3 separate regions of the Homo sapiens genome follow, and regions 1 and 2 are each linked to region 3. The links come from fine-mapping of genetic effects on gene expression. A gene starts in region 3. Each other region holds a variant in brackets. All regions are shown on one strand. Distances are from middle to middle. Region 1 overlaps LINC00469 (long intergenic non-protein coding RNA 469). Region 2 overlaps LINC00469 (long intergenic non-protein coding RNA 469). Region 3 holds the start of LINC00469 (long intergenic non-protein coding RNA 469).

The links. PIP is the estimated chance that this variant, and not a neighbour inherited with it, causes the effect.
Region 1: its variant is fine-mapped to the expression of LINC00469 in whole blood (TOPMed, PIP above 0.99).
Region 2: its variant is fine-mapped to the expression of LINC00469 in spleen (GTEx, PIP 0.99).

What each region holds. Positions count from the first base shown.
Region 1 is chr17:73,756,278-73,766,424 of GRCh38, reverse strand. LINC00469 (long intergenic non-protein coding RNA 469) reads left to right here. Exons shown (of 4, transcript NR_027146.1): 3 at 5,399-5,490. It overlaps LOC100134391 (a long non-coding RNA gene), which reads right to left. Exons shown (of 6, transcript NR_164140.1): 6 at 9,868-10,115. Among named protein-coding and RNA genes, the nearest start is that of LINC02092, 25 kb to the left of the region's middle. The variant C/G (reference allele first, on the strand shown) is at 4,313.
Region 2 is chr17:73,767,099-73,777,245 of GRCh38, reverse strand. All of the region lies in intron 2 of LINC00469 (long intergenic non-protein coding RNA 469), which reads left to right. Among named protein-coding and RNA genes, the nearest start is that of LINC02092, 15 kb to the left of the region's middle. RefSeq lists enhancers at 6,013-6,512, 6,513-7,014, 9,365-9,865. The variant G/A (reference allele first, on the strand shown) is at 5,797.
Region 3 is chr17:73,823,679-73,833,825 of GRCh38, reverse strand. LINC00469 (long intergenic non-protein coding RNA 469) reads left to right here and starts at 5,289. Exons shown (of 4, transcript NR_027146.1): 1 at 5,289-5,378; 2 at 10,001-10,138. RefSeq lists enhancers at 3,451-3,950, 3,951-4,452, 5,443-5,952.

The sequences.
Region 1 (10,147 bases), 67 kb after region 3:
CCACGTGCTCCTCTACTGCTGCTGCCCTTGGCTCAGCAGGAATCTCACAGCTAGAGTGTTTCTATATCTGGGGCCTTCCCAAGCTCTACACCCCCATCTCACCGCTCCCTGCCCTCCATAAGAAAGTTTCCGGGGATGGGAGCAGCTATCTCTGAGATAATTGCTTAATTAGGGGAAAATTACTTAAATTTCAGCAGCAGCAGCAGCGGTAGCAGCAGCAGCCACTGTGCTGCTCTGACTATAAAATCCTCTAAAACCCAGTTCCCTTAGAAAGGAGATCACTGCCCACTCAACACCTACTCCTCCTTCTCCAGGGAGAGGGCAGGAGAGAACCTGAGCGGGATGTCAGGGGCCTCTCGCACACACACTTGGACACACACACACCCCTACATCCATGCACACACGCACAAACACTACATCCGTGCATATGCACACACACAGGCCCTCACCATCGCAGCTGGGCTCTGCTAGACGTTGGTGAGCTTGTGATTTTATCAAAGTCCAGAGGCGGACATATGTTACGGACTGAATACTTGTGCCACCGCAAAAGTCGTATGTTAAAGCCCTAACCTCGAATGCAATGGTATTTGGGGTATTTGGAGGTGGGGACTTTGGGAGTAGATTAGGCTTAGATCAGGTCATGAAGGTGGACCCCCAAGATGAGATTTGTGTTTTTTGGAGAAGAGGAAGAGAACAAGGCTGCTTCTTTGTGCCACATGAGGATACAGTAAAAAGTCAGCAGCCGGCACGCCAGGAAAAGATCCCTTACCAGAACCCAACCATGCTGGCACCCTGAGCTCGGACTTACATCCTCCAAACTGTGAGGAACAAATGTCTGTTAAGCCCCCCAGTCTATGATATTTTGTTATAGCAGCCTGAGCTACGATAACACACGTTCTGGAAAGAGCCTGAGAGCAAACATGTTAGGCATTTGTTTCAGCTACTCAATGAGGCCAATGTAGCATGAGCAGTCACAAACGATACTGAAATGCACAAGCAAAGCTGCATTCCAATAACACTTTATATGTGGCCCTGGAGCCAAAGTTTGCTGACCCCGTCAAAGGCTAACTATTGGGATGCAGCTGGAATGATTGGGCTTAGGTGGTTCTCGGCGCCTTGGGGGATGATCTCTGTGAGCAGCCCGGCTCCACCAAGGCCCAGGGAGCTCCGAGAAATGATTGTGCTTAGCTGTGAGGCTGTCACAGTTGCAAATATGGGCCATGGGGGCAGGCAGTTCTGGCCCAAATTCTTGCTATATGATCTTAGACCAGGTATTCAACTCTCTGAGTTTCCATTTTCTCATTTCCAAATTGATCATCATAATGGTTCCTTCCTCTCAGGGTCATGGTGGCAGGGCCCAGGGATCATGGGGTGAAGCTGAGTCTGGTCCATAGTCAGTGCTTATGGGTGTCAGCTTCTGGGAGTGTGTTTTGGATCTCAGAGGAGAGTCCTGGTAGGAAGGTTTTAGGGTTTCTCTTCCCTTTTCCCCTCCAAACTTGTTACAATCCTATCTTCCCTTGGGATTGTGCCTCTTCTGAAGAGTCAAAGAGAAGACAGTGGAAAGCCACAGGGTTCCTGGCTTCCCTGCTGCCCCGACAGAGGCAGATGCTGGCCAGGGTGAGCCGACCCCACCCCACCCACCCCTGCCCACCCGTGGCAACCCTTTGTCCTGCCTAGCTATCCTGGCAGCCCTGGCCTGCAATGAACATTATCCTGGAGGGGACCGACCATCCTCCAGGCTACCCACAGTGGGTGCTGGAGAGCCCCCTTCCCCAGCATCCCTGTCATCCAGTGTCTTCCCTCTCCTCCTTCCAGGCTGCCTCCTGCCTGTCAGCTCTCCTCTACACAAGGCCACCCATCCAGAGACGCTCCCTTTTCCCCTGGGAGCCCAAACAGCCTCCTATAACATCACCATGGGCCGAAGAGAAACCTCAGTCTAGAAGGAGTGGTCCATAAACTGTGATCAGGCATTGGAGACAAGATGCCCATGCTGATATTGGTATCAGGAGAGATGGTGCAGGTACCCATCAGGCCAGCTGCCAAAGGTGGAGCAGAGGTGGCAACCCGGGGGCAGGGAGGGGATAGAAATCCCGGTAGTGGCCATGAGCAGGAAAGTGGAGCAGAACAGGTGCAAGGGAGCTTGGGGCCATGGGTTCAGAGAGTCTGGAAGCAGGAACAATTCAAGACCTGGATCCTAGGAGAGCCAGATGCTCAGGAAGGTTAACCAGGAATAACCGTGCTTGGGTGAGAACTCTGGGAGGGAGATGGGCAGGAGATCCGGCAGAGCAGTGCCTGCACGTATTCTTGACTGGCAGATGGACAGACAGACATCAGGCCCAGCAGCGAACTTATTCCACTGTGAAGTGGGTAATAAAACTTTATATGAGGCCCTAGAGTCAGGGCCACATCTAGCCTGAGAAGCCAGTTTGTTGACAGGTCTGAAAAATCCTCCGGAAGTTAATTAGATCACTCAGATCCCATTGAAGCCTTCGCCATCCTCCTGGTTGCTCTTCTAGGTGCTCTGAGTCCCTTGCACTGCCTCTCTCCTAGAGATAGTTTTAATGTATTATAATTACTCGGGAACATATTGATCTTCCTTATTCGCAGTGAGGTTCTAGAGGCAAAGATAATAGTCTTATTTAGCATTATATTTCCAGTGCCAACCACTGGGCCAGTGCAGAGTAGTTGCCAATACGTATCTATTGACGGCAGAAACCAATATAACTTTTCCTGGTGTCTATCAATGTCCCACCCTCACCCCCAGCCATCCTACCAAGCCCACCCACCCTACCATCTTGACACAGCGCCCACTGCCTGGACCCTCAGGGCCTCCTGCTTAAAACATAACTAAGTGGTGTAAAGTCTAGATACCAGCTTCCTTTAAATCATGGTCTGATGTTTTGTGTACTTTAAATAAACCACTGAGTGGATGAGACTGGCAAGACCACCACGGGAGAAGAGACGTCAGGGCTAAGACACAGGGACACAGCCTTGGGGACAGAGGCAGAGATGAAGGTTGTCCCAGCACCAGGAAGTTGGTGGAGACATCCATCTGGGCTCTGTTAGCTGAAAACCTCAGGAGCACCCCTTCCTGGGGTCTGTCTGCTCACCCACTCCCCTTCCAGTCCCCTTGCCTGCTCCTAGGCTGCTGAAAAGAAATGGAATCAACTTCCAGCTGCTCTGCTTGTGGCTGGATTCTTCACTCTTCCCGGGAGATGTCTCCCTCCCACAGGCAATTGGACCAGCAGCCAGGCCTTGGGACTAAAAGAGAGGTCTGAGCGGCGCTTGTGTCACTGGGGCTTAAGTCTTGAACAAAGCCTGTCTGACTGGGTTCTCCCAGGCTGGGTGGGCTGCCACTTAGGGGCCAGCAACAGGGTGCCCTTTTTTTTTTTTTTTTTTTTGAGACAGAGTCTTGCTCTGTTGCCCAGGCTGCAGTGCAGTGGCGTGATCTTGGATCACTGCAACCTCCAACTTCCTGGTTCAAGCAATTCTCCTGCCTCAGCCTCCCGATTACAGGCACCCACCACCATGCCCGGCTAATTTTTGTATTTTTAGTAGAGACGGGGTTTCACCATGTTGGCCAGGCTGGTCTCAAACTCCTGACCTCAGGTGATCCGCCTGCCTTGGCCTCCCCAAGGCTGGGATTACAGGCATGAGCCACCGCGCCTGGCCGACAGGGTGCTTTAACTAGGCTGGCACCTCACTGCACACAGTGAATCAGAGTCTCTCCCACGCTATTTCTGGGCCTGCTCTGTGGGATTCACGCCCTTGTGTGCTCCTGACCTGCAAAACCAGGCCCATTTGTAGCTGTGTTTTTCTCCCAGAAATGAGGCCTAATTGCCTAAAAGCAGAGAGTGTAGGAGTCTTGGCCCACTGCTCACCTCCTCAGCCAAATGAGTTGGAACTCTGACCCCAGCCCCAGTCTCTGGCTCTGTCCTTGCTCCCTTGGGACCTCAGCCCTGCCTGGGATCCTGTTCCCATTTCCTGGCTTTGCACTTCCTTGTCCTGACCATCTTCTGCTGCTTCAGCCCCTCCAAAGCCATATCATGATTCTGCTACCCACTCCCTGCATCTGAGCCCTGCCTCTCCCCATCTGCACCACGCCATCTGCCTGCCCCGAGACCTCAGTGGTCTCTCAAGCCAGTCTCCTCATCATCTCTCATTTTATTCCCATTTCTTTCTACCTGCTCTCCTTGCTTCCAGATCCTGCACAGATCCTCTCTCCAACACAGTGGTTCTCAAACTGTGGTCCCAGGACCCAAAGCAGCAGCACGTGGGAGCTTGTTAGGAATACAAATTCTCTGGCCACAGC[C/G]CAGCCTTGCTGAATTAAAAACTCTTGGGCTGCAGGGACCAGTGATCCGTGTTTCCACCAGCCCTCCAAATGATTTTGATGCAGTCAAGGTTGAGAACCTCTGTGTCTGGCACATCCTCCCTGTAGCTTCTAGAGTGTTCTTTCTAAAATCCAGGACAAGCCCTCTCATTCTCCTGCCCCAAAACAGCACATACCTCTCTCTTGCCTTCAGAATTAACTTTCAACTCTCTTCTTAAGAACAGTATCCAAGGCTCTTTACCATCTTGCCCACACTTTCCTCTCCAGCCTTCTCCTTTCGACTATGGAAGGCCCGGTGGTTCCAATGTTGCCTTTCTGAAGCCTTCCCCATCTTCCTGGTTGCTCTTCTAGGTGCTCTGAGTCCCTTGCACTGCCTCTCTCCTAGAGATAGTTTTAATGTACCATAATTACTCGGGAACATATTGATCTTCCCTATTCTCAGTGAGGTTCTAGAAGAAAGGATAATGGTCTTACTTAGCATTATATTTCCAGTGCCAGCCACTGGGCCGGTGCAGAGTAGTTGCCAATACGAATCTATTGATGGCAGAAATCAATATAAATCTTCCTAGTGTCTATCAACATCCCAGCCTCACCCCCAGCCATCCTACCAAGCCCACTCATCCTACCATCTTGACACAGCACCCACTGGCTGGACCCTCAGGGCCTCCTGGGATCTCCCTCCATCCCATCGTATTCCTGTGAGTGCTTCTAGGCCAGGTCACTTCCAGCCCAGTCATTCTGCTGTCAAACAACTCATAGGAAGAGTGAAGGTGAGGGCCTTCCCGGGACCCCTTGCGCTGGTGGAGATCTGTTCTCCATCCCAGGGGTTTCGGGGGAGACAACCTCAGTATCTCCTTCAGGCCCCATCCAATGGTATGAATGATTCCCAATTCCCAGAGGAAACATGCCCCTGCTTCAAACTACCCTCCTGTGACTGGACTTAAGGCTGCAGGACAGGGCTTGGGGTGATATTCATTTTGCCTGCTCCCCTCTCCCACTAGATTTACCTTCCCAATGATGTCTGCTTGCACCAATATTAAAATGAGCCTTCATTCCCTGTGCACACAGCAACAGCTCGGCAATCTGGAGGCAAGGTGGGAGGTGGAGAAGCACGGAAACGAAGTCTCTGGCTCAACCAGCAAAAGTGAACCACTCCCCAGGTAGGTCACCAAGGATGGTAGTCATTGTTTCAGTGGGATCTGAGTGATCTAATTAACTTCCAGGGGGTTTCTCAGACCTGTCAACAAACCGGCTTCTCAGGTGAGTTTTGCCAAAGGACGGAGCAGAGATGCACAGAGGGGCTCTTGCCGGATACTCAGGTTCAGGTTTAAGGAGCACAGGCACTTTTGAGGCGGCGATAGAACCAGAGTCCCCAGTTCTCTTGGAGCCACCCTTTAGGGCCTGGCCCAGGCTCCTCTGAGCCCTGAAACCCCTCCCACTTGAGCCCCTCCTGTGTCCTTCAAACTGCAGCTTCCGAGGCCATTGGAAGGTAGTGAAGGGGGCGTGGTGTTTGTTTCTCTGTGACTTCCTGGCTGTGGCTGCAGTGAGCAGTTGACTTGTGTCACACTCATCCTCAGTCATGATTAGGCACACCCACACTGTCCCGCTGACCACACTCCAGAAAAAGAGCCTGCAAGGGTCCCTCTGTAAGTGGAAGCAGCCTCCATCTCATTGGCCCTTCTAGAGACCGCCCGGGTCCCCTTCTGCGATGATGCCACACAGACCCACTCCATCCTCTCCCCACACCTTGCCCTCAGGTCGCCTAGCAACCTCAGGGCGGCCAGCCTGGCCAATCACCTAATCACCTGTGGCTGCCAGCATCCACCTGCCTCCCCAGGCTGGAGGGAGCAGGAACTCAAGTGCTCCCCTGCCCCTGGCTTCACCTCCACCCTTCAATCCCCCCCACTGCCCCAGACCTTACAGAGGCAGCACAGTGACCAGCATTTCGCATCTCACCCTTTGCTCCCTGCCCAAGGCCCACTCTGCGGCTTAATCTGTGACATTTAACATAAATGGTTTTCTATTCCCAGCTGACCTTTAATGGCTTTTATCATCAGCTGTGGTTCCTGGCAGCCGTACAAGAGCTGGTGTCGGCTGCCCGAATCTATTCCAACAGAATACCCAAGGAGAGCCCACAGTTTTCGCCACGTGAAGCTGGGGGGGTGCGCCTGGAGATGTCTGCCGAGACTTGAGCTTGCCACTCTCGGCCCGGAAATATCATTATGTGTTTCAATTAGAATTAGTGGGGAAGCCAGTTATTAAGTGGTTAGTTATTATGGTAATGGAGACACTCCACAGTAGCTGGTGCGGGCCACTCTTGCCTTCCTCTAACGGCCACTTTTTAAATCCCTAATCCCTCCCTGATGCTCTGTTTCCAAGTGCAGTAGGATGGAAATGGGAGGGAAGAGACCAGAAAGAGGTGGGTTTTGCATCCCCCTCTTCCGCTCCGTGCCCCTTCCCCCGCCAAGATACCATTCCCAGCAGGTGTGTGCTGTAGTGACATTAGCAAACCCTCCGCCTGAAATCCCAAGCTGTGTCTTCACACCCTCAGAAGCAGAAGTCATTGTGAGGGAGCGCCCACTTCCACCAACCCCTCCGGGCGTCTTTCCTCCCACTCACAGATGGTCACCGTGTCATCATGGAAAGGATGTGAGAGGACCCCTGTGGAGGTTTGGGTTTTGGCAAAGACCCTGCAGATACTGAAGGTGCAGAGAAGTGAATGAGGACTCTCAGGCTGAAGGGCAGGAGAGTGGAGCTCTGGGCCCATCCTGCGAATAACCTTAGGCAAGTCACATGTCTTCCAGGAGCTCCAGCCCCTCCCTGCATACTGAAGGTTCCGACCAGCTCTCAACCCTTCCTCTGCTCACCTGAGGGACATGGCATTCCCTCCTCAGGGGTGACAGCCCATAGCCGGGTAAATCAGGGATGCTTGCCCAAAGTCACTGCAGCAAAGTTGGGCAGAGGCATGGCAGAGTCTGGAGTGGGGGTCCCGGTACCCTGCTCCCCTCCCTCACTGATACTCAGTCCTCTCTGCCTGGAGGAGATACTTGCAGAGGTGCCTTCTTATCTTGCCTTTTTTTTTTTTTTTAGGCAGGGTCTTGCTCTGTCACCCAGGCTGGAGTGCAATGGCACAGCTCACAGCTCACTGCCGTCTCAACCTCCTGGGCTCAGGTGGTCCTCCTGTTTCGTTTTTTTTTTTTTTTTTTTTTTTTTTTTTTTTTTGTAGAGATGGGGTCTCACTATGTTGCTTGGGCTGGTCTCAAACTCCTAGGCTCAAGTAATCCTCCCACCTCAGCCTCCCAAGTAGCTGAGACTACGGGTATGTGCCACCACACCTGGCTAATTTTTTTTTTTCTCTCTCTTTTTTTTTTTTTTCTGGTAGAGACGGGGTCTCCTATGTTGGCCAGGCTGGTCTTGAACTCCTGGCCTCAGGCAATCCTCCTGTCTCAGCCTCCCTTAGTGCTGGGATTATAGGAATGAGCCATCATGCCTCGCCCCCATCTTGCTTTCAAATATTCCTCTCCCACCATCCCTCCCTCCTCCTTCCCCAGGCCTGAGTAGGTCGGTAGCTTCTCTGCAGTCAACAGGCAGAGCTCACAGCCTTGGTTCCAGCCTTCACCAGCCACAAACCCTGAGGCAAGTGCAGAGCCCCTGGTCCTCCCTTTCCTTATCTGATAACGTATCATAAGTGATGCAAGGGAAGCCATCTACACGGGCTGGCAAGAGGCGAGGACGGTTATTGGTCATGATTATTGCTGTTATTATTTTAAAGACCATCAGAGCGGAAAAAAGAAAAGAAAAAAAACAAAAAAAAAACAAAAACAAAAAAACAGGAAGCAGCCCACAGTGGCTTCCTTATCCTTGAACTCTGACAGGTCTTTAAGGAGGGGAAGGAAAAGAGATGCAGAGACCAAACAGGAGGTGAAAGGGGCAGAACAGAATGGAGATGACTAGGAAGAAAAACAGAATGGGAAGCAAAGAGAGAGAGAGAGGAGAGAAAGGAGAGAGAGAAAGAAGAGAGAGAGGAGACAGAGAAGAGAGAGGAGAGAGAGGAGAAGAAAGAAAGAAGAGGAGGGGAAGGGAAGGGAGGGGAGGGGAGAGAAGGGGAAGGGAGGGGAGAGAAGGGGAAGGGAGGGGTGAGAAAGGGAAGAGAGGGGAGGGGATGGAAGGGGAGAGGAGGGGAAGGGGAAGGGAGGGGAAGGGAGGGGAGGGGAGGGGAAGGGAAGGGAGGGGAGGGGAAGAGGAAGAGAGGGAAGGGGAGGGGAGGGGAAGGTAGGGGAAGGGGAGGAGAGGGAAGAGGAGGAGAGGCCCGTGGGTGGTGGGGTGGGAGGCTGGTGGAGGGAGAGCTGCTTAGTTTGTTTCCTTCTGCTCAGCTGTGCCAACAAAAAAGAAAAGGAATCTGTGAAGCCCAGACAAGGTGGCCGAGTCGCAGTGCCGAAGCGCAGCTCAGTGGAGGAGGCGGCAGGCACAGGGCCCAGAGAAAATTATCTTTCTAACCACTACGTTGGTACCATAATCACCTTCACGCAGCAGCTCTGGTTCCTGGGGGAGGGGCCACTGGAGAGCCACTTGGTTTGATTCCTTTAATCTTTTGACACCGCCTGTCACGGAGGAGTGTGTAATTAGGCCGCACTGTACCTTCCCAGCAGCCCAAGCCGCATGCACCTCACAAGATGAGAGCAGGTGCTACTGGAGCCGCCGGGCCAGCCTGGGCTCTTAATTGGCTTATGTGCTTCTCCTGGAGTCTGTCCTGTTTTTCCAGGTTTGCAGCTACCTCCTGGACCGTGGTGGGGATTGCTCTCTCAAGGGGTCTCTGAGGGACCAGGGACCCTGCCGTGATGCTGGTCTGGGGGCAGGGTGGTGGCAGGTGAACTCTGGCCCAACCAGCTAATGGCCTGAGAATGTGCTCTGCCTGCCCTGAAGAGCTCCCTGACCCCAAAGACCCTGCTGTGCACACATCTGAACCCCCATCCCTGGTGTCTGCACCTTGCTATAAAGAGTCAGCCACGGAGACGTGTGGCGACCGCAGGAGCACCGGGAGGGAGGCTCTCCTCGCCTGGGAAGGGACCAGCCTCTTGTTTTCTATGGTGGACAGGCCAAAGAGATACAGCCTCAAGCGTTTGAGGATTTGGAAAATGGAAGAGATTTGAGGATGGCCAGGAGGGGTTTGGAGCCCTGTTTTGCTCAGCAAAGAGCAGAGTAAAACAAGGCTGTTTATTCAGGCCCTAAATGATGGGGATGCTGGCATCTGCCCAGCAGCCCACACGCTGGGGGCATGTGCTCAGGCAGCGCTGCTCCCTCCTTCTCCCTGGAGCCTCAACCTCTCCTTGGGTATGCAGGAATCTTCCTCTCCATCCCGCAGCGGCAATTTTAGACAAGGGTGGCAACTTTCCCCTCTTCCACAGCCAGCCCCTGCTCAGTAGTCTTCCTGCATGAAAAGCTGAACAGGAGCCCCTGGTCTAATCCCCCATCTGGGAGCAGCGGGGCTTCATGTAAAAGTGTGGAGCCAACCAGAGCAGGGATTGGGGGTGACCTAGGGAGGGGCCACGTACAAGGATGCCCTGGCCCATCCCTGAATGTCCTACACCACTCTGCTAGTCCTGGAAGGCCCAGGCATGGACAGGAGGGCAGGGCACCCTATTGAGGGTCTGCAGGATTCTGGAAGGTTGAATGTCATGGTGATAATCAGCTCAGCTCTGGGGTCCAAACGCCACTTCAAATCTCAGCTTCACCGATAGGGGTGACCATAGGCATGGTTTAACCTCTTTATGCTCTGTCTTCTCCTCTGCAAAATGGGGTAGTAAAGCAATTCTTGAA
Region 2 (10,147 bases), 57 kb after region 3:
CAATGGATGGAATGTGGAGTGTGGGAGAAAGAGATGCATCTGTCCTGGCTCATAGATGTGTGGCCCGAAGAACAAACTGGAAGGACAGGGTTGCTCTATGCCGAGATGTGGGAAGAGTCTGTTTGCTTTCTGAGTGTGGCAGCTCCCTCTGAGGATGAAATCACAGCATAACACATTGGAATGGCAATAACTGCCTTGAGACAGAGGTGTTATATCCAAGAAAAAGCGCTTTCAGAGGAGGCTGTGGTTGAAATAATAATGATTGTTTTGATGCATTCCGTATCCAACTGATGGAAAGCACACTTAGCAAGTCAAGAAAAACATGAAAGAATCCAAAGGGCTCCAGGCCAAGACCCAAGTTGACATCCTAAAGCCGCCTGGGAAGTTGAGAGGAAATCGTCTCCCTGCCCCTCCTGGGAGTTGGGGCAAATGGCACCATGAGGACCCTAGCCTCCACCGGGGCGTCTTGGGCCACATCTCGCTCCAGCAGTCAAGCCTCCGAGCTGCCGATGTACGGATGTGGTAAGGATTGCCGATGACTTTTTCATCGCTTTTACGGCAACTCTCACTGCATCCGCCATTCTTTGCAAGGAGAATGTGAATGAACTTCAGATTGAACTACAGACAGAAGAAATTCTTCCTGCCAAAGACACTTAAAACCCCTCCCGTCGGCACCGAGCCCCAAGAATTCTGATTGTGGCAGAGAAAAAACAGCCAGCAAAGATAATACCAAATAGTATAAAAATAGAGTGGGCTTAAGGCAGAGAGACAGAGAGCTGTAGTGTCTCACGCTCACTACAAACATTTACAGAGCATGCAGCTGGGAGGCAAGACCAGCCAAGGAGATACCAACGCCACGAAGCTCTGGGCGAAAGAATCTTGCTAATACTGACATCCATTTCTTCGGGCCTTCATTTGATGAATATTGAGGTGTACAAAGCTCACAAAGGTGTCACGTCCAACATGTCTCTGATGGCGCTGATAGACCGAAGGGGACTGTTTTCAACAATTTGAGCCAAGGTGCTGATGTCCGGCGTGTGAAACCTGGGTAAGCAACCATCTCCAACACAGGCATCTCCATGGGCAGGGCATAAGCCACGCTGCCCAGGACCACCTGTCCCCGCTCCCTGCCTTCACGATCATTCTGTTTTTACCCCTGGGGTTAGGGATCGGAGGAAGGCTGCAGTTTCCTAGCGACCATCTGTCCCTCATCCTTACTATTCCCTGTTTCTGCTTGTGAGGGTGACGTGGGTTTGCGCCTGGGAAGGGCATCTTGTAAGGCTTTCTGTTTGTCAATCTGTGAACAAATATCTATATCCAGTTTACTTCAGGCCAGGCCTGTGCTAAGCGCTGTCATGTAATAGGCTCTCAATAAATATTTGTGAGGCTTCAGGGATATAAACCTTATGAGCCTACCTGGACAGAAAGCCAGGTCCCTTCTCCAAAAACTTCCAGACATTTTCCCTCGAAGCAATGTCCAGGGAGAGAGGCCAGTGGGACATGGACGGGGGTACCCAGGATGGGTAGGGGATGGGACCTCAGTTCTCTGCATAGAGTCCCCACGCACCAGGCATTTGCCAGGTCTGCTGTGGCAATGACGTCCCACCCTGTTAGTTTCTCTCACTTCCAAAGCTCCAGGAAAAGCACTCAAGCCTTGGTAAATACAGTCTCTCAACTGCAGCCCTCACCTTCAAACCTGATTCCTTCTCTCCAGCCCTCAGCCTTGACTGTTCGAGTGAACCTGGTCAGCATTTCTGACCGACCTGTCACTTGGGTCTCTAGTCTCATGCTCTGGGACTAATGGATCACATCATCTGGGACAGGTGCCCATGCCTGGGCAGACCCATATACATGCAGTCCTACTCGGTTATAAATATCTATGGAGTGCAATACCAAATAATTGTGGGGCATATTTCACCCTGCCTGTTGAACACATTGCAAGAAAGGAATTGATCCCTGCTGTTTCATTTATTAGATGGTGTAATACCACAAAAATCGTTTCCACAGTATCCCAAACTAAATCATTTATTCTTGACAAAAATCCAATAAAGAGCTCAATCCTTCTCCATAGGCAGATAAAGCACAGATTAATGGGACTGCCTAGATCAAAAAATGCTGGGAAAATGAAAGCAAGATAGAGAGAGAAGCCTCCTTCCTCCTCCTCACTTCCCCAAGACTGCCTCGGCTCAGGGTTTTATTACAAAAAGCCGCCTAAGTATTACAGGCTAATCCGTAAATCCCAGCCTAGTAAAATATGTGACGGATTTGTAAATTGTGCCCTTTACAAATCTGATTGAACTTTTTTTTTTTTTTGGCTGGGAATTTTGCCTTTCTCCTTTTCCTCTTCTTCTCACCTTGTCCCATCTCGCTGGGTCCCCAGTGACCCGGAACCCTGCATCTGACAGTGTGGGCCCCCAGCACTGGCAACATTCCTGGTATGTTCAGCCCTTCCATGACCCTTCTATGACTTGACTGACAGAGGGTGGAGATTGTTGGTGGTACGAGAGGCTGAGAAAACCATCATTCTCTTTATTTACCATCTAAGGGGAAATGAGATTCAGATGGGGCCAGGGCCCCAGGGCCAGGCGTAGCAATGTCAGGGGCACAGGGCATGCTTGCAGCCAAGTATGAACGTGGTGAAGGATTTGTACATTGTTTCCAGTGGAGACAGGAGTAGATCAAGCTGGTGACCTTCAGATCCACAGACTGGCTGCTCAGAAGAGCCTTTGCCTTGGCTGGGCGCGATGGCTCACGCCTGTAATCCCAGCACTTTGGGAGGCTGAGGTGGGCAGATCACGAGGTCAGGAGATTGAGACCATCCTGGCTAACACGGTGAAACCCCATCACTATTAAAAATATATATATACAAAAAATTAGCCGGGCATGGTGGCAGGCGCCTGTAGTCCCAGCTACTTGGGAGGCTGAGGCAGGAGAATGGCGTGGACCCGGGAGGCTGAGGCAGGAGAATGGCGTGAACCCAGGAGGCAGAGCTTACAGTGAGCCGAGATCATGCCACTGCACTCCAGCCTGGGTGACAGAGCGAGACTCCATCTCAAAAAAAAAAAAAAAGAAGAAGAAAAAAAAGAAGAGCCTTTGCCAGCAAATCTCATTCTGCCCACTGACTTGAGCCCACTACCTTCAACCACCCAGAGCAGGTGGTTCTCCAGGGTCCATCCACTGTACCTGGTCCACACTGTCCTTGGCGTGCACTCCATCTAGGGTACCAACCATCTCAGTGTGCCCGAGACTGATGGGGCTCCCAGAAGGCAAGACTTTCAGTGCTAAAAAGTCTCAAGCAAACCGAGATGAGTCACTCGCTGGCTGTGCATCCTCTGCCTGAAGTTCTGGGCCTTCTGCACCCTGAGAAGAGCTAATCACTCAGGCCAGCTTTTAGCTTTCTCTGCCTGAAACCACTTCCCTTGCAGAAGCAGAAAAGTGCCCGAGCAATAGCATGGGCTTGGTAGTCATCCAGCCCTGGGTTTGGGTTCAGGATACCCGTGGCCATTGGAAAGTCACATAGCCTTTCTCGGCCTCAGTTTCCTCATATGAAAAGTGGAGATAATAATACCTACTTAATTGGATCATTGTGCTAATTAAATGAACAACAAAAGTGAAGCATCTAGCATAGAGTAAGCACACGGCAATATCATCATCATCATCATTGTTTGAACACATCTCCTTAAGTAAGACTGAAAAAGAAAAGTATGACAATGGTGAAAAGCCCTTTGAAAGCTGGTGCAATGACAACCCCCCGACCATCTCACTAGAGATATAGCTCCTTATTCTTGCAATCTGAGCACTGGCCAAAGCCCAGATGTCAGTCTTTAAAGGAGCCAGTAATGCGAGCCGCTGGGACGCAGATGATAGGATGGAAACCAGGTCTTTCTGCTTGGTGCTGTGCCTCACATAGTTTCAATCTATGGGGCTATACCCCAGCGCCCCAGGAAAACGACTGCTTCCTCTTCTTACAGATTTTACAAAGGCAAAGGAAAGAGCCACCTGGGATGGTTGCCCTATCAACTTTCCTCAACCACCGCCCCCTACACACTTAGGCCTGTCCAGCATGGAAGCAGGGCTAGAGAAACAAGGAAAGGAGAACGGTCCTGGACCAGCAGCCTGGAATGGCATTTCACAGGCTCTAGAAATGTGATAGAGAGTACCAGCCCTGCAAACAAGAGTGCTGCTCCCTGATCCTGCTCATCCTGTTGCCGTCTGGGGGTGAAATTGTCTTCAGAATTCTAGATTGATTGACTGCTGGGAAGTTCGTCCTGCTGTTCCACCTCCATCCCTCCCAAGGATGAGGGTGCCTTTGGAAGGGACAGGTGCCCATGCTTGGGCAGACCCATATACATGCAATCATACTCGGTTACAAATACCTAGAGAGTGCAGTGGAGGCAGTGGGGCAGTGGAGAGCTCAGGACCTTTTCCAGGTCCAAGAGCCTAACAACACTGCATCTTGCTTGGGTCCTAAGATAGGCCTTCTGCAATGAGGCAGGGAAACTAGGAACAACTTGTAGATAGGGGATTTGCCTCCCCAGAACACTCTAAAAAAGTGGAGTTCCCATCTGCTGTGTTTCTGAAAGCAGAAGGAGTGGATTCTGTGAGCTCAGGCTGCTCCCACAGAGCCAGGGTCCTCCTTTTTGTCCCTTGGAACATCCAGTTGGCGCCTCCACTGCCCCAGTCAACCTTTATCCCTCTATTTCCTGCTGAGAGTTAATCTTATTTCCTGCCTTCTGGGTGTTTAGCTTGGCAACCCAGAGAGCCACTCAGCTGGACCTCTCCCATTCTGCTGATCACAGCTGGGAGAAGGTTAGAGAATGTGACTCCCACAGCCATGGCCCTGGATGGGGTCTCCCGGGCAGTTTATCCTGCCATTGTGGTTCTTGGCATTGAGATGCAACGATTCTAGTTCTGTTATTGAGGGGGTGCTGTGTGGGTGTGAGGGAAGCAGGTGATCGGTCAGGGGGTTGAGGGGCAGTTGCCAGGGTGTGGGAGGGGAGGGGGAAAGCTGTGCCCATTACTCTTTTGTGGACTTGGAGGTGAAAAAAAAATCAATGAGACATCCTGTTTCAACTCATCCTGAGTTCAAGTTTAAGGGCATTTGAAAAAGTGCTCGTTTTCTTTTCTGGGGTGGGTGGTCATGACATGAAAGAGGACGTACCAAAGGATGGGGTTCCCATTCAGTGGGAGGTTTCATGGTGTCATCCCTCCACCCATCACTCAAAAGGCCTAAGATCTGGGAGGCAAGATGAGGTCTTTGTAGATAGCACAGGCTGGGGTCTAGGTTTGGGAGCCCCTTGGTCATGACCTGGCTCCCATTCCCATACCCCTGTTGCTCCATCGAGAGCCCATAGATCAACCACCAAAGCTCCATTCAGGGTCTTGTAGATTTCGTTCCCTCATGGAGGATTTTAAAGGGAAGGAGGGCAGCTAGCAAGGCCAAGAGGCATGAGAAGCAGGGCCCCTGTGTTACCACCACACCAAAGCTTACCTGAGTGGAGCTTGGCAGCTCTGTTCCCCCTGATTCTCCCAGGCATCCTTCCAGAAGTCCTAAAGTCAAAATGCCAGAGATCTGGCCACGTGGGTTCCTGCTAGCTTGTCCCAGCCAGCACCCAAGAGACCACAGGGCATGATGAGTAGAGGGAGTGCCAGAGCAAACTCATTGGACTCAGGGTGAGCATCTCAGTAATTTCTTATTTATTGGCCTCCTCCAGTCCCACAATCACTGGTTCTGCTCAATATTTTATTCTTGTTGCACCTACTCAGGCGGCAGAGCTGCAGGCATTTTTGATAAAT[G/A]GATTGAAAGGTTTGTCTACTTTTGCTGAAGCTTCCATAAGTGCCTCTGTATCCTCCACTGAAATTATATTTCCCAACTTCCTACAGTGATTTCTCTCCCCTCGTGACTCCTCTCTTCCTATTTGCTAGGTCTTGTGCACTCTGTCTCTCTCTTCTCCCCATCTCCTACAAACACATACACACACACACACACACACACTCATGCAGAGATGCCCATATCCATGAACTCACAAACTTAACTACCCCTATGACCACTCAGGGGAGCAATATACAAGGGACCAGAGAGTATATCTATCCATTGACAGGGACGCACATACAACAGCCATGCACACAGTACATCCCCTCAGGCACACGAATATAGATGCACACATGAGCTGTGGCTTGTGATTGAAATCTCCATGCTGCTCTTTCTAAGCTCATCCAGACTCAGACCCTGATGGCAGGCTGCAGAGACCACAGGTCCACCCTGAGCAAGGGAGGACACAGATGGGCAGACGCCAAGGAGAAGCATGGTGCCCCAGTGATCCCCGCTGGGGACCCCAGTGAGCCTTCGAAGAGCCCTGCCCCATCAGCGGGCTGACTCCCCCAGCCCTCCTCCAGCCCTCCTTCATCCTCACCCGCCTGCCTGGCCTCAGCAGCCCCAGTGGGCCAGCTGGAGGCTTTATCCCAGCCACATCTGAAACAGCTCAGGAGCTGTGCCTGGCCGCCAGCCGTTTCCATAAATAACTTGCTGGGCCTGGCTCCTTGCCCTCCTGGTGATGTCATTGGCCTTGGCCCAGATGATGAGGTCACAGGCTTCCCTTCCCTCGCCACTCCCTTGGGGTGGGATGGGGGAAGCATGAGACCTTCTTCACAGAGCCTGTCTGCCGAGAACCTGCCTGTCTGCGCCCCATCCTGTTCCAGCCCGGCCAGGCAGTGGATGTGGGTTCTCCACCATCTGGGACTGCCTGCATGGTGGTGCCAGATGGCAGCCTTCCCCCTCCTTGTCACCAGTTCCTGAACAGCCTCCCAACTTTTCCATCTCCCCACTGCCTTCTCCCCTTGTCATGATGTGATTTCCAGGGGACAGTGGACTTGGTGCCCGGATGGAGCTCCCCCTAGGTCCAAATCCTGGCTACCCCACCCACTAGCTGTGTGACTCCGGACAAGATGCTTCACCTCTCTGTGCCTCTGTTTTCTCATCTTTAAAATGGAGGCACTGATAGGACCTATCTCAAGGGTTGTCGTGAGGCTGACATGGGCTCATACCTATAAAACACAGTGCCTGGCGCATTAGTAGACAAATAAATTGATTCCATGATCACACTTCCCTGTGCCTGCGTGTGCTGGGGAGAGGGGAGGCTCTTGCTTTGTGCATTTTCAAATATGTGGCAGGCAGAGGCACCCGTGATCTCCTGTCTGTGGCTCTCACATCCCCCACAGTCACCAAAGATTCCATTTTCCCAACTTGGGCTCTCCCCATCGCCTCATTCTATTCCAGTGGTGGCCCCAGCTGATTCCCAGAATCATTGCTTTGGTCCTGGAAGTGGGAATGGCCAAGATGTGAGAGGGTCTTTGAGAGCTCCAAGGTGTTCTGAGGCCCCACAGCCACCCCACTCCACAATTACCTCCAATAGAAGAGAGCCAGACTCCCTCCCTGGCCAGCACTAAGGTCACCAACATGAACAGTATCAGACAACACAGAATGACCAGCCAGGAGCCCGTGGGCATTGGCTCCAGATGTGTGAGTTTGGAGAATGCCCTGCGGAGGCCATGGGGAGATGGCCGTCTCTGGACTGGAGAGTGGAGAAGTTTCACTGTGATTTCATCACTGTGCTGTTGGATATGACAGCCCTGAGCCACATGTGGCTATTGATCACTGGACACTGGGCTAGTGAGGTGCCTGAAGTGTGGGATACACACAGGACTTTTAGGACCCAGTATGAAAAAGAGATGGCAAGATATCTCATAAATAATTCTTTTATATTTATTATGCATGGAAATCATGGCATTTTTCATATATTGGGTTAAATGACGTATGCTATTGTGAGCAATCTCACCTGTTTCTTTTCACTTTTTTTTAATGTGGCTGCTGGAAAATGTAAGGCTACACGTGTGGGTTGCGGTGTCTTTCAATCAGGTAGCCCGGGCCTGTTCTCTCACTGAGTGCTAGAAAACATTCTTTGGCTCCCATCCCGAGGGTTCTGACTTGGTGAATGTGGTGTCTTCCGGAGCTTAGGGCTGCTGCCTTCAGCCAAAATATGCCCGCACCCCTTCATCAGTATCTGGAGAAGACCGGGACTGGGCACTGTACCAGGTGCTCTGGTTTCCTCCCCACGTGTGGTCACCGCCTGCCCACCATCCTGAGCTCAGCCTTATATATTTAAGGGGGGGCTCCCTAAATTTGGCCAGAACACCCCCAGGACATCAAGCACTCAGTGCCACGTGGCCCCTCCTATTCTTCCCGCCACAGCTTGTAGCACCTGCCTAGAAGTTGTGCCTCTCTTCTCCCTTCATGTAGATCTTATTCATGCTTTAAAACCTAAATCAGAAGTCACCTCCTCCATGAAGCCTTCCTGGACCCCTCCACTGGATGAGTCACTCTGGACCATCATAATACTTTGCCTCAAACTCAGTGAAGCTGTTTCTCAGAGTGTGTGTCCTGATAGAAGGTGTTACATGCCAGGCCATTTCTGTTCACATAAATCTTCATCACAATCTCAAGAGGCAGAAAGTAGGATTATTCTTATTTTCTATATGAGGAAACTGAGGGAGAAAGATTAAGCATCTTGCCAAGGTGGCAGAGTTTATAGTAAAGAAGCAGAATTCCTGCCCATGGGGTCTGATTCCCAGGTCATGCTCTATCTGTCATGCCTGATGGCCCAGTCACAGGTAGCATCATTCCTGGTACCCCCCCAAAAGACAATGACAGTATTGAGAGTGGGGCCCCAGTTTATCCATCACTGTAATCCCCATGTTATTCACTCAGGTTTAGGCACACAGTAGGTGCCCAATAAATGTGGACTGAATGAAACCAGCATTTAGTTATTAGCCTTACTGTGCTTTGAAATTGGGTCCTAGTACCCATGTCCCCAAGGCCAGCCCTGGCCATCTCCCACCCCTCACTCCACCCACCTCCATCCTGCCTTCAAGGCTCAGTGGCCTCTCCGTACCTCCCCAGGGAGTTTTGAACTGTGCTTGTTCAAAACTCAGTTATTGTCGTGCGACCTCTGTTAGCCAGAAATTAATTCCCCAGGTTACCACTACATAAAAACTCAACTCTTTTTATGGTCTCTATATGCCTTGCCCTTTCCTCTTATGCAGGTCTCTCTGTACTTCTAGGGAATAAATAAATACAGTGTAACTTTTAGCAGACTTTATCCACTGTAGCCCTCCGGGCACCGTGGGGCCTGGAGCCAGCTAGAACCCCAGCTGCATCTGGGGGTTGGCAGGTGGGGCATTGGGAGGATTCTGTGTCTCACCCTAGAGCTCTCTGTTCTGGGGACTCCCTGGGTCTTCACCAGCCAGGCACAATCCCCATCGTGGTCCATGGCTGCACCCCTCCTGCCAAAGCTCCCTTGAGGAGTTGTTGCCCCCTGCTGCACCCACTCCTTGCACCTGTAACCACACTTGACAGTGGTGAAATTGGCAGCAGCGGAAGGAACGCCCACTGAATTTCAGTAGTGGGTCAACCCCAGTGCTGATAGAGGCTGGGCCAAGGGGCACAGCGTTCGGGGACTCCAGCTACTGAAACCCCCTCCCATCCCAGGGAAAGGCATCAGAGAAGATTTTTGTCTGGCTTCTAGACCATGCCCTGTGATTCCAGAGGGTCCCTCATGTAGGTGGTGGGGTCTACGACTACCCTGGAGCCATGAAGCTCCCCTCCCGCATTTATATCAGGGCTGAACAATCTCCACCTTGCTCATGTCCCAGTGGGACCTGGACTCAATGGTATGCTTGCTAGTCTGGGATCAAAGGCCAGTAACTCTGACAATGTTTCTCATCAGGAAGGCAGGGGGACATCTCTGTTCTCCTAGTTCCCACAGAAAGATCTATGTGTGGGTTGAGTCAATACTCTGTTGGAAGAGAGAAGCTCTAGTCTCTGCAGGGACAAGCCAGCTAAGGGCCCTGTCAATTTCATTTCCCTTTCACCATTTAACCAAGAAACATCCCAGTCTTTTTTTTTAAAAAGTCTCCATGTAGTAAATGATGATTAACACCAAAAAATAAGGGCCTCTTTCCTTTCCCCTTCTAGTTTTCCTATGTTTGAATCCCAGGGCAAAACCACCTTGTTAGGTTGCCTGGTCCGTATATCCACCTCAAACTGGCTCTACAAGAAACCCTTTGGATTTTTGTACCAATCCTCAGAGCT
Region 3 (10,147 bases):
TCTCCACCACCACCTCCATGCCTTTAATAGGCACCACTGTGTGCATGGCTGCACATTAAGGGGACTGTAGAGAGATGCCAAGAGGTATATGAGCGTGCCTCCATTGGTGAAGGGATTCAGTAGCTTTATTATTATTATTATTATTATTATTATTATTATTATTATTATTATTATTTTTAGAGACAGAGTCTCACTCTGTCGCCCAGGCTTGAGTGCAGTGGCACCATCTTGGCTCACTGCAACCTCTGCCCCCTGGGTTCAAGTGATTCTCCTGTCTCAGCCTCCCAGGTAGCTGGGATTACAGGCGCCTGCCACCATGCCCAGCTAATTTCTTGTATTTTTAGTAGAGACGGGGTTTCACCATCTTGGCCAGGCTGGTCTTGAACTCCTGACCTCATGATCCATCCGCCTCGGCCTCGCAAAGTGCTGGGATTACAGACGTGAACCACCACACCCAGCCAGTAGCTTTATTTGATCCTGAGGGTGGCTCAGAAGATGCCTAGACTTCCTGCCACTAGTAGATGGTTTAGATCCAAGCCTTTAGTTTTTTATTTTATTTTATTTATTTATTTTTTTATTTTTTTGAGATGGAGTCTCACCCTGTCACCCAGGCTGGAGTGCAATTGCACTATCTCGGCTCACTGCAACCTTCACTTCCCAGGTTCAAACTTCTGCCTCAGCCTCCCGAGCAGCTGGTACTACAGGTGCCTGCAACCATGCCCAGCTAATTTTTGTATTTTTAGTAGAGACAGCGTTTCACCATCTTAGCCAGGCTGGTCTCGAATTCCTGACCTCGTGATCCTCCCACCTCGGACTCCCAAAGTGCTGGGATTACAGGTGTGAGCCACTGCGCCCAGCCAAGACTTTGGTTTTTGTTATACGTGGGCAGCACCCAGAAATGGCACTCATCTCCCATTTGCCCTAAACCAATAACACCTTGTGAATCAGTCATCGACTACTGTGTAACAAATAACCCTAAACTTGGTGTGGCCTCAAACAACAACCATATACTCAGTCTCAATTCTGTGGTTTGCCAATTTACAGTGGACTCAGCTGGTCTGAGATGTTCTACTGAGCTTCACTGAGCTCAGCTGCATTCATCTGCACAACTGCTGGGTGGGCTGGAGGCTGGTTGGCCTAGCTGGGCCATGGGCTAGTTCAGGCTTGTTCACAGGTGGTCTTAGTGTTCCACGGTCAAGAGTGGAGGCTTCATGGCCTTAGAGTGGACACATTGTCACTTCTACCAGCTTCTGTTGACCACAGCAAGACAAATGGCCAGTTCAGATTCAAGGGGTGGTGTAGTAGTTTGAATAGTGTCCCCAAAAAATGCGTGTCCATCTGGAACCTCAGAATGTGACTTTCCTTGGAAATAGGGTCTTTGCAGATGTAAATAATTAGGGATCTCCAGGTGCAAACATCCTAGATTTAGAGTGGGCTCCAAATCCAATGACCGGCATCCTTGTAAGAAGAGAGGAAGACACAGAGACAGAGAGACACAGTGAGAAAGACACACAAAGTCAGAGGCAGAGATTGGAGTGATGGAGCTACAAGCCAAGCAAGTCCAAGGATTGACACCAGGAGAGAGATCTGGAGTGGATTCTCCCCTAGAGCCTTCAGAGAGAGCATGGCCCTTCCAACAACTTGACTTTGGACTTATTCTGTTGTTTCAGCCACCTGCTTTATGGCAATTTGCTACAGCAGCCCTAGGAAGCTAATATGGGAGGGAAATAGACTCCAGCTCTTGATGGGGGAAGATGCAAAGTCATATTGCAAAGGATGAGAATACAGGAAGGCAGGGGGAAGTAGAGCCTCTTTTGCAATCTTGCACCTTGGTTTACCAGTCCCCACTTTGTTCCTGGCAGGTGTCTTAAAACCGAAGAGCATCACAGAATGCCAGACACCAGACACTCACCACACGCAGTGGGTGCTATTTCTGCACCAGGCTCCAGAGAGTGCGTTCCTGGGTGCTGACGCTCCTACAGCTGCCTCCTCTGCAACAGCCTCTCTTCCCTGTACAGATTCCTCACCACATCCAGCCAAATTGCCTTCATCTCAGCAGAGGCTGTAGAAGGCAGACGGCCAGGAGAGTGGGGCCGTCAATGCACTGGGTACAGCAGTGATCCTCCAGGATTTTCAACACCTCAGGTCCTAGTGGCCTGGGATGATCTGACCCCAGACACCCTCCCCAGATGCAAGTCCATCCCCAATGCACAGGAAGGAATACATCTCTGGATTGACTAAAACATCATACTGGAAAGGAAGTTTGACAGAGGAAGGTCATTCTCATTCCACAGGCACTTCAAAGACAGGCTTCTCTCTTGGGAGTCGAGCTGTAGCTTCCATGAAGTTTTCAGCACGTTTTCTGAATACCCACCTGTCATCGATGCTTGGAGGTGCAAAGTGGGTTGGATGACTGAATCCTGCCCTTGAGAGCTGACACTGTCACCAACGTTGTTGAGATGGGCTGGAGTCACCCACTGAGCACTCAGTGACTGGTACGCCAAAGGCCAAGGCCTCACGGTGGACACCATGATGAAAACAACATACAATTAGATGGGAGGAAAACATTCTGTTCTTCTCTGGCACAGAAGAGTGGCTATTGTTAATACTAATGTACGGAATATTTCAAAATACCTAGAAGAGAGGACTTCGAATGTGCTCACCGCAAAGACATGACAAATATTGGAGGTGATGAATTTGCTAATTACCCTGATTTGATCCTTACACAAGCTATACATGTGTGGACACATCACACTATACCCCATAAATATGTACAACTATATGTTCTTTTTAAAAGATGGAAACGATGCCAATGTCCATCAACTGGTGAATGGATAAACGGAGTGTGTGTGTCCATATGATGGGATCGCATTTGTCCATGTAAAGGAAGGAAGTGCTGATACACGCCACAGCGTGTGTTGGTGGACTGCTCGGGGCCCATGCACACCTTGTGTCCAGGCTTCCTCTTGCAGGACCAGGATCTTCCCTGTCTCCTTCCACGTTGCTGAAGAGTCACCCTGCATCAGGCAGTGGATCACAGTGGCAGAGTGATGAGCTTGATAGACAAGGAGCAGCCTTCAGGGAGCTTTCACCCAGTAGGGGAAATGGATGAATAACCAACAACAACACCTACTTACAGCTTGTGAAGGTGCCAAAAAGAAACCAGAAAGGTGCCCTGGGAGAGGGGAGCTGGGGTGGGGATAGTGGGTGAGAAGGAGTTGAAATCTGAGCTGGGACATGAGGAACTGTGCTATACAGGGTTGAATAGTGCCCTCCCCTGCCCCCACCACCATTCATATTTTCTCCAGGAACCTCAGAATTTTTTTTTTTTTTTTTTTTTTTTAAAGAATCAGGGTCTTAGTGTGTTGCCCAGGCTGGTCTTGAATCCTGGCCTCAAGCAATCCTCCCACCTTGACCTCCCAAAGTGCAGGGATTGCAGCGTGTGCCACCATGCCCTGCCAGAATATGATCTTATGTGCAAATAGGATCATTGCAGATGTAGTTAATGTGAGGTCATACTAGAGTAAGATGGGCCCTTAACCCAATATGATTTGTGTCCTCATATGAAGGGAGAAGAGACACAGCCATGCACAGAGGAAAGACAGTGAAAGCACAGACACGCAGAGGGAGATGGCCTCGTGACAACAGTGGCAGAGGCTGCAGCGATGCAGCTACAAGCCAGGGAACCCGGAGGATTGGTGGTAACCACCTGCAGCTGGAAGAGGCAAAGAGGATGCTCTCCCACAGCCTTCAGAGGGAACAGGCCCCTGGCAAGACCTTGACTTTAGAGCTGGGCCTCCACAATGATGAGAGAAGCCATTTCTGTTGTTTGAAGGCACCCAGTTGATGGCAATTGGTTACAGCGTCCACAGGAGGCTGAAACAAGAGCGAAGACTGTTCCAGCAGAGGGAGGAGCCAGCGCAGATGACTTCACGAGAAAGTTCCTAGGCCTGCTGGAGCAGCGGCCGGGACGCCCAAAGGAGCGGGAGCCCTACAGGCAGGCAGGGATGGTCCCAGAAGGAGTTGGTGCCCAGCCACAGGGTCTTGTAGACCATGGTGATGATGTTTGTTTTATTCTAAGAACGCTGGGAAGTCATTGAAGGATTTTACAAGAAAGATGAAACATGATTTGAAGTTCATTTTTGAAAGATCGCATCAGCTGCTCTGTGAAGAGGAGTTTTGAAAGAGGCAAGAGAGGAGGCAGGACAGCCACTGTGGCCTGCAGGTCCTCAAACGATTACACAGAGTTACCGTGTGACCCACAGTTCCACTCCTCTGTATAGACCCACGAGAAACGAAAACATATATTCATACAGAAACCTGTACAAAATGTTTAAAGCAGCATTATTTGTAATAGCCCAAAGATAGAAACGACATAAATGTCCACCAATGAATCCATACAATGAGGTAGTTATTTGGCCATAGAAAGGAATGAAGTGCCGATAGGACAGCATGAATGAACCCGGGAACCATCACGATAAGTGAAGGAAGCCATTCACAAAAGACCACGGATTGTATGATTCCATTTAGACAAAATGCCCAGAAGAGGCAAATCTCTAGAGACAGAAAGTAGATTACTAGTTGCCTAGGGCTGTAAGGGTGAGCGTTGGGGAGGGGAGATAGCTGAAGGGTCAGAGCTTCTTTTTGAGGTGATACAAATGCTGTAAAATGGACCACGGTGACGATTGCAGCTACATGGAATATACTAGCAACCATTGAATTGTATACTTTTTTTTTTTAAGTGAAAGCAAGCTTATTAGAGAAGTAAAGAAACAAAAGCATGGCCACTCCATAGGCAGAGTAGCCTGAATTGTCCACTTTAAATGGGAGAATTACATAATATATGAATTACATTTCAATAACGCTGTTTAAAAGAAAAAAAAAAGAGTGAAATCTCAGAGGAGGCCACTGAGCACTCTGGTGGAAGAAAATGGTGACTTAGGCCAGGGTCATAGAAGTAGAGACAGCAAGAAGGGATGAAAACAGTGGATTGTGGAGGCCGAATAGACAACCGATGAATAGGTCAACACCTGCTGTCCATCTGTACGAGGGAATATTATTCAGCCATAAAAAGAAATGAAATGAACCTTGCTGCAACATGATGTTAGGTGAAATAAGCCAGACACAAAGGCCCCATATGGAATGATGTCACTTACACGAGGTTTCTACAATAGGCAAATTCATAGAGACAGAAAGAATGGAGGTTACCAGGAACTGGGAGGAGAAAAGAATGGGACATTATTATCTCACAGTTCCAGAATTTGTTTGGGATGATTTAAAAAAAAAAAAAAAAGCTCTGGAAATAGATCATCAGGATGGTTGCACAATGTTTTGAATGTAAATGCCACTGAATTGTACACCTTAAAAGGGCTCAAATGGTAAATATTATGCTATGTATATTTTACCATGATGAAAATAAACGTACAAAAGTGAGACAGCAGTGAGTCTAGGCCTCCCTTTTAAGAAGCGATGGCATCAAAGAGAGCAGAGGAAGAGAGATGGAAGTTAGGAAGGGGTTTTTCAAAGAGCAGATTCACGGGAAACGATTCATTCGTGCAGGAGAGAAAGGATGAAGGAGGAGCGGGGTCCCTTGAATGTCCACAGGCAGAAGACGAGGGCAGAAGGGGAGGAGGTTGTCTTTGTGGCGGACAGAGGAGCTGTGAATAGGGAGGGAAACAAGGGTGTGCCTTCCGTTTACTCAGCACAGGAAGAAGCAAGGCGAGGAAGAACAGGCTCCTTTTTGAAATGCAAAAGCCTGTTCTTATCTAAACACTCTTGCATAAGACAAACAAGAGCGCTACCCAGTTGGTGACTTGGGACAGGAATGCCTGCCACCCTCTTAAACGTTCTCTCCCCTCCCCTAGCCTAGACTGAAGACCTCGGCCTCCAGCTTCTCTCCCAGACCCTTTCTTGGCTGGATGAGGTCACTCACCCCTTTTGAAAGCTCCACAGGCATTTCTGGACCAAGTTCCCTCACTCTTTTAAATGGTTCTGTAATTGCTTCATTCGCATAAACCTGCCCTCCTGGGCATCTGAACAGCCCCAGGGCAGGGCCTGACTGCAGAGCCAGCTTCCTTACGCCAAGGCCCTCGTGCCTGCGTCCCTCCTCGCCTTCAGCCATGAGGTTGCCTGGCCAGCGGTGGGGGTCGCCTGGATCGTGGGGATGTTCCCCCCACCCACCTGGCCCCACCAGTGAAGGGCCCCAGCTGACACCATCTCTCTTGTTTCCTGTTTTCCTGGGTCAGACCCAGCTGGAGGTCTGCAAATTCTGAAGCAGTTCTCAACCCTGGGTGCACATTTTAATCATTTTTTACAAAATACGAATGCCTGATGTCCAGCCCTGACACTGGTCTGCTTGGTCTGGGGGTGAGGCCCTGGAACGGATGTGTTTAGATTTCCCATGAGACTCTGATGTGCAGCCAGGGTACCAACCTCTGCTCTAAAGCAGGTGAGATTGCCCTGGGGACTTCATTAGAATCAGTGCCCAATTCCTCCACCCCCGCAGAGATTTCGCTTCTGGAAGTCCAGAGTCGAGGTCCAAGAATCTGTGCATTTTAACAATACAGCCCCCAGGGGAGCTTGATGAAGGTCCCTTGGGAAGTTCAGGGCATGGTGCAGGGGACACTGTCTCTCTCTCCTTCCCTCTCATCTGCATCAGCTCCCCAGGCAGGTGGCACTTTCTCTGGACAGGTCTGGAGTCAGGGCTGCAAGGCTGGTTTATGCCTGGAGGTCGGGGGATGATGTGAGGTGTGCATAGAGAGAAGCCCCTGTGAGGAACGGGGACCACTCCTGCTCACCCACATCAGTGACAGCCCAGCCTGGGGCTGGCCCTGGAAGGCCAAAGAGTGAACAGGTCTGGGGGCTGGTGCTGGGTTGAGCTCAAGGGCCTGGGGCTGGGGTCTCCATTCCAGATTCCTCCTTCCCTCTGTCACTTCAAGTACCATCAGAGCCACCTGGGGATTTTGTCCTGAGTCACTCTGAGGCAGAGCAGGTGAGGCTGTGCTGGGGAGGAACATGGGGGCCTGAGCCCCCGACTCCTCCCCATTCCCCCACCTGCCCTGCTTCAAGGACTTGTCTAAACTACACAATGCCAGGCCGGCGCTCCCAGCTTGGGCTCTCACCCCAGGTCCCATTGAGAAGGTGGAGAAGGGTCAGGATGGAAGTTTCAGGCAGGTGGTCCAGGAGAGGACAGTCCTGGGTGGAGTCTGGGTCTTGGGTGCTCTGGGCAGCTCATCACCTTGAGTGTCCAGACTGTCAAGTCCGAGCGAGACAGGCAAAACCCCTAAGTGGACAAGAGTTGGCAGGGACCAGGGCAATGATTAAATCCACTTCAGATCATTTCTGTGGCCGTCTTGTTACCCAGCCCTGGCTATGTGTTTCAATAACGGCTGACAGCGGGTGCAGTGAGCTGGGCTGGAAACTGCCACATCCATCCACCCTGCTCAGGGACAGCTGCTCCCCTATCCACAATTCCCTTGTCCCAGAGGCCAGGACTGAGGCCAGGACACTGACTAGACACCCAGGCCTCCTGGCCTCTAAGAGCCACTCATGGGAGTCATCCACGACATCTGGGGAACCTCCTTGACTTCAGAGGAGGATATTGGAGCCCAAGCTAATTGATGGGTAAGCCAGGACCTGAACACAGGTGGTCAAGCTCCATCCTCCCCTTGGAGAGAGGACACAGTCCTACAGAAAGCCAGACTGCTTGGATTTGAATCCAGGCTCTGCCTCAGACGAGCTGTGTGACTCTGGACCTGGGTCTCAGCCTCTCTGTGTTCCAAGTGTCCTGTCTATTAATGTGGACGATAACAGTCCCTACCTCTTAGGGTTACCATGGGGATTAAATCTGGTAATTTAATTTTTGTCTTTCTTTTGAGTCAGAGTCTCGCTCTGTTGCCCAGGCTGGAGTGCAGTGGTGCGATAGCTCACTGCAACCTCTGCCTCCCGGGTTTAAGCAATTCTCCTGCCTCAGCCTCCTGAGTAGCAGGGATTACAGGTGTGCACCATCACGCCCAGCTAATTTTTTTCTATTTTTAGTAGAGACGGGGTTTCTTCATGTTGGCCAGGCTGATTTTGAACTCCTGACCTCAAGTGATCCACCCACCTCAGCCTCCCAAAGTGCTAGGATTATAGGCATGATTTTTCTTTACACCTCTTTATATTAGTGCTTACCACGTGTCAAATACTTTCCTAAGCACTTTATAAAAATTAAGCTATGGATAGTGACCCCGATGAGGTAGGTCCCACACTTTATACACAAGGAAACTAAGTCACAGAGAGATTAAGGTTATACAGCCATTAAGTGGCAGTTGGAATTCAAGCTGGAGTCTGGTTCAAGGGTCCATCCATGCTCTTCGCTACTTACCATGCTGATGCCCATATGCGTACCAGAAGGCAGTAGGTGCTTAAATGTTTACAGCACCAGTGATTACTATTAGACCTGAGCTGCAGAATTTGTGGCTGATGGTGGCTGGTCTGTGATCATTGTCTGGTGGGTGGGTTGCCCTAGCCCCCAGGCCTTCCTCTTGCTTTTTTTCCCCTCCACTCTTGAAAGGGAAGCTGAAGCTCTGGAAATCTACAACTATCTGCTGTGGGGGCTGCCTGAGCAGGTGGCAGGGCCCTTCTCTCCTGTTCCACAGACGATCTGATTCACGGTGGGCCCCTCGTGGCTGCTCCTGTCCACCTGGGCTACCACTCACACCCCTGCAGCCCTCCCTCCGATCTTCTCAAAGGCATGTGAGATGGTTTGCAAAAACACCCTCAACCCTGAAGAACAATCTAACTGTAAAATGCTCAAGGCTGGGCACAGTGGCTCACGCCTGTAATCCCAGCACTTTGGGAGGCCGAGGCGGGCAGATCACTTAAAGCCAGGAGTTCGAGACCAGCCTGGCCAACATGACAAAAACGGGTCTCTACTAAAATACAAAAATTATCCAGGTGTGGTGGTGTGTGCCTGTAATCTCAGCTGCTCCAGAGGCTGAGGCAGGAGAATCGCTTGAACCTGGGAGGCAGAGTTGCAGTGAGCCAAAATCATGCCACTGCACTCCAGCCTGGGTGACGGAGGAAGACTCCCTCTCAAAAATAAAAATAAAAATAAAATGCTTAAGAAAAATGAAACAAAACAAAAGCAATATCATTGAAATAAATGGCAGGAGGCTGCTTATTGAGGGGGTGTGGGAGAGACAGGGAGAGACAAGGAGAGAAGGTCATTTCCAGGATCTGTTCCTCAGATGGAGCCCAGTATGCACCGCTCTTTCCCAGAGCGGCCCTCTACAGATGAAGTGTCACAGCAAACAGAAAACCACAGATTCAGCCCTGGGGGCTACCAGCTTGGAGACTGGAAGCTTTCTGCTCCTCCTCTTAATTACTTTGTGCTTGAAAACCCTCGTGGCATATTGACCCTCCCAAGAAGCAGTAGGACGGGGGAGGACTCAGGACCTCCTAGACAGTCCTCTGAGTCCTGTCCCTTCATTCCCTGACAGTCAAAAGTGAGATTTTTTCCTCCATAAAGGAAAGGTGAGTCTGCCACTTCAGATTCTCAGCAGGCACTGCCGTCTCAGTGTTCTGGCCTGAACTCTTTGGAGGAGTCGTGTGACTACAAGCCTGAGAGCTGAGGACAGGGCACCCAGGGGATCCCAGGGACCAGCAGAGAGCTCTTTCCAGCTTCCTAGGTGGGTGTCCTGGCCAGTCCCACAGGCCCTTGTTTAATGGTCTGCTGTTGCTGTCTTGAAATTTTAAATCATTTTTCACAAGAATTGCAACATTTTCATTTTGTGCCGCCCTGCCAAGTGAAGTGGCTGCTTCTGCCTGGGGGTGTCAGTGTCCCATGGACATAAGGCACTGAAGTTAAGGGGCTCCTTTCTCCTCCCTCCTGGCATTTTTCACAGCAGGTTTCTCAACCACAGCAGTGGTGACACTTTGAGCTGAATTATTCTTTGTGGCGGGGGCTGTCCCGGGCCTTGCCGGATGTTTAACACCACTCCTGGCATTTACCCACCAGACGTCATCAGCACCCACCCTCCCAGATGTGACAATCAGAAATGTGTCCAGACATATCCAGATGTCCCTTATGGGGAAGGGAGAATCGCCCTGGCTTTGCAGACTCCAGCTGGAACCCCTGCTGCAAGCGATGGAGGAGGTGAGCTTT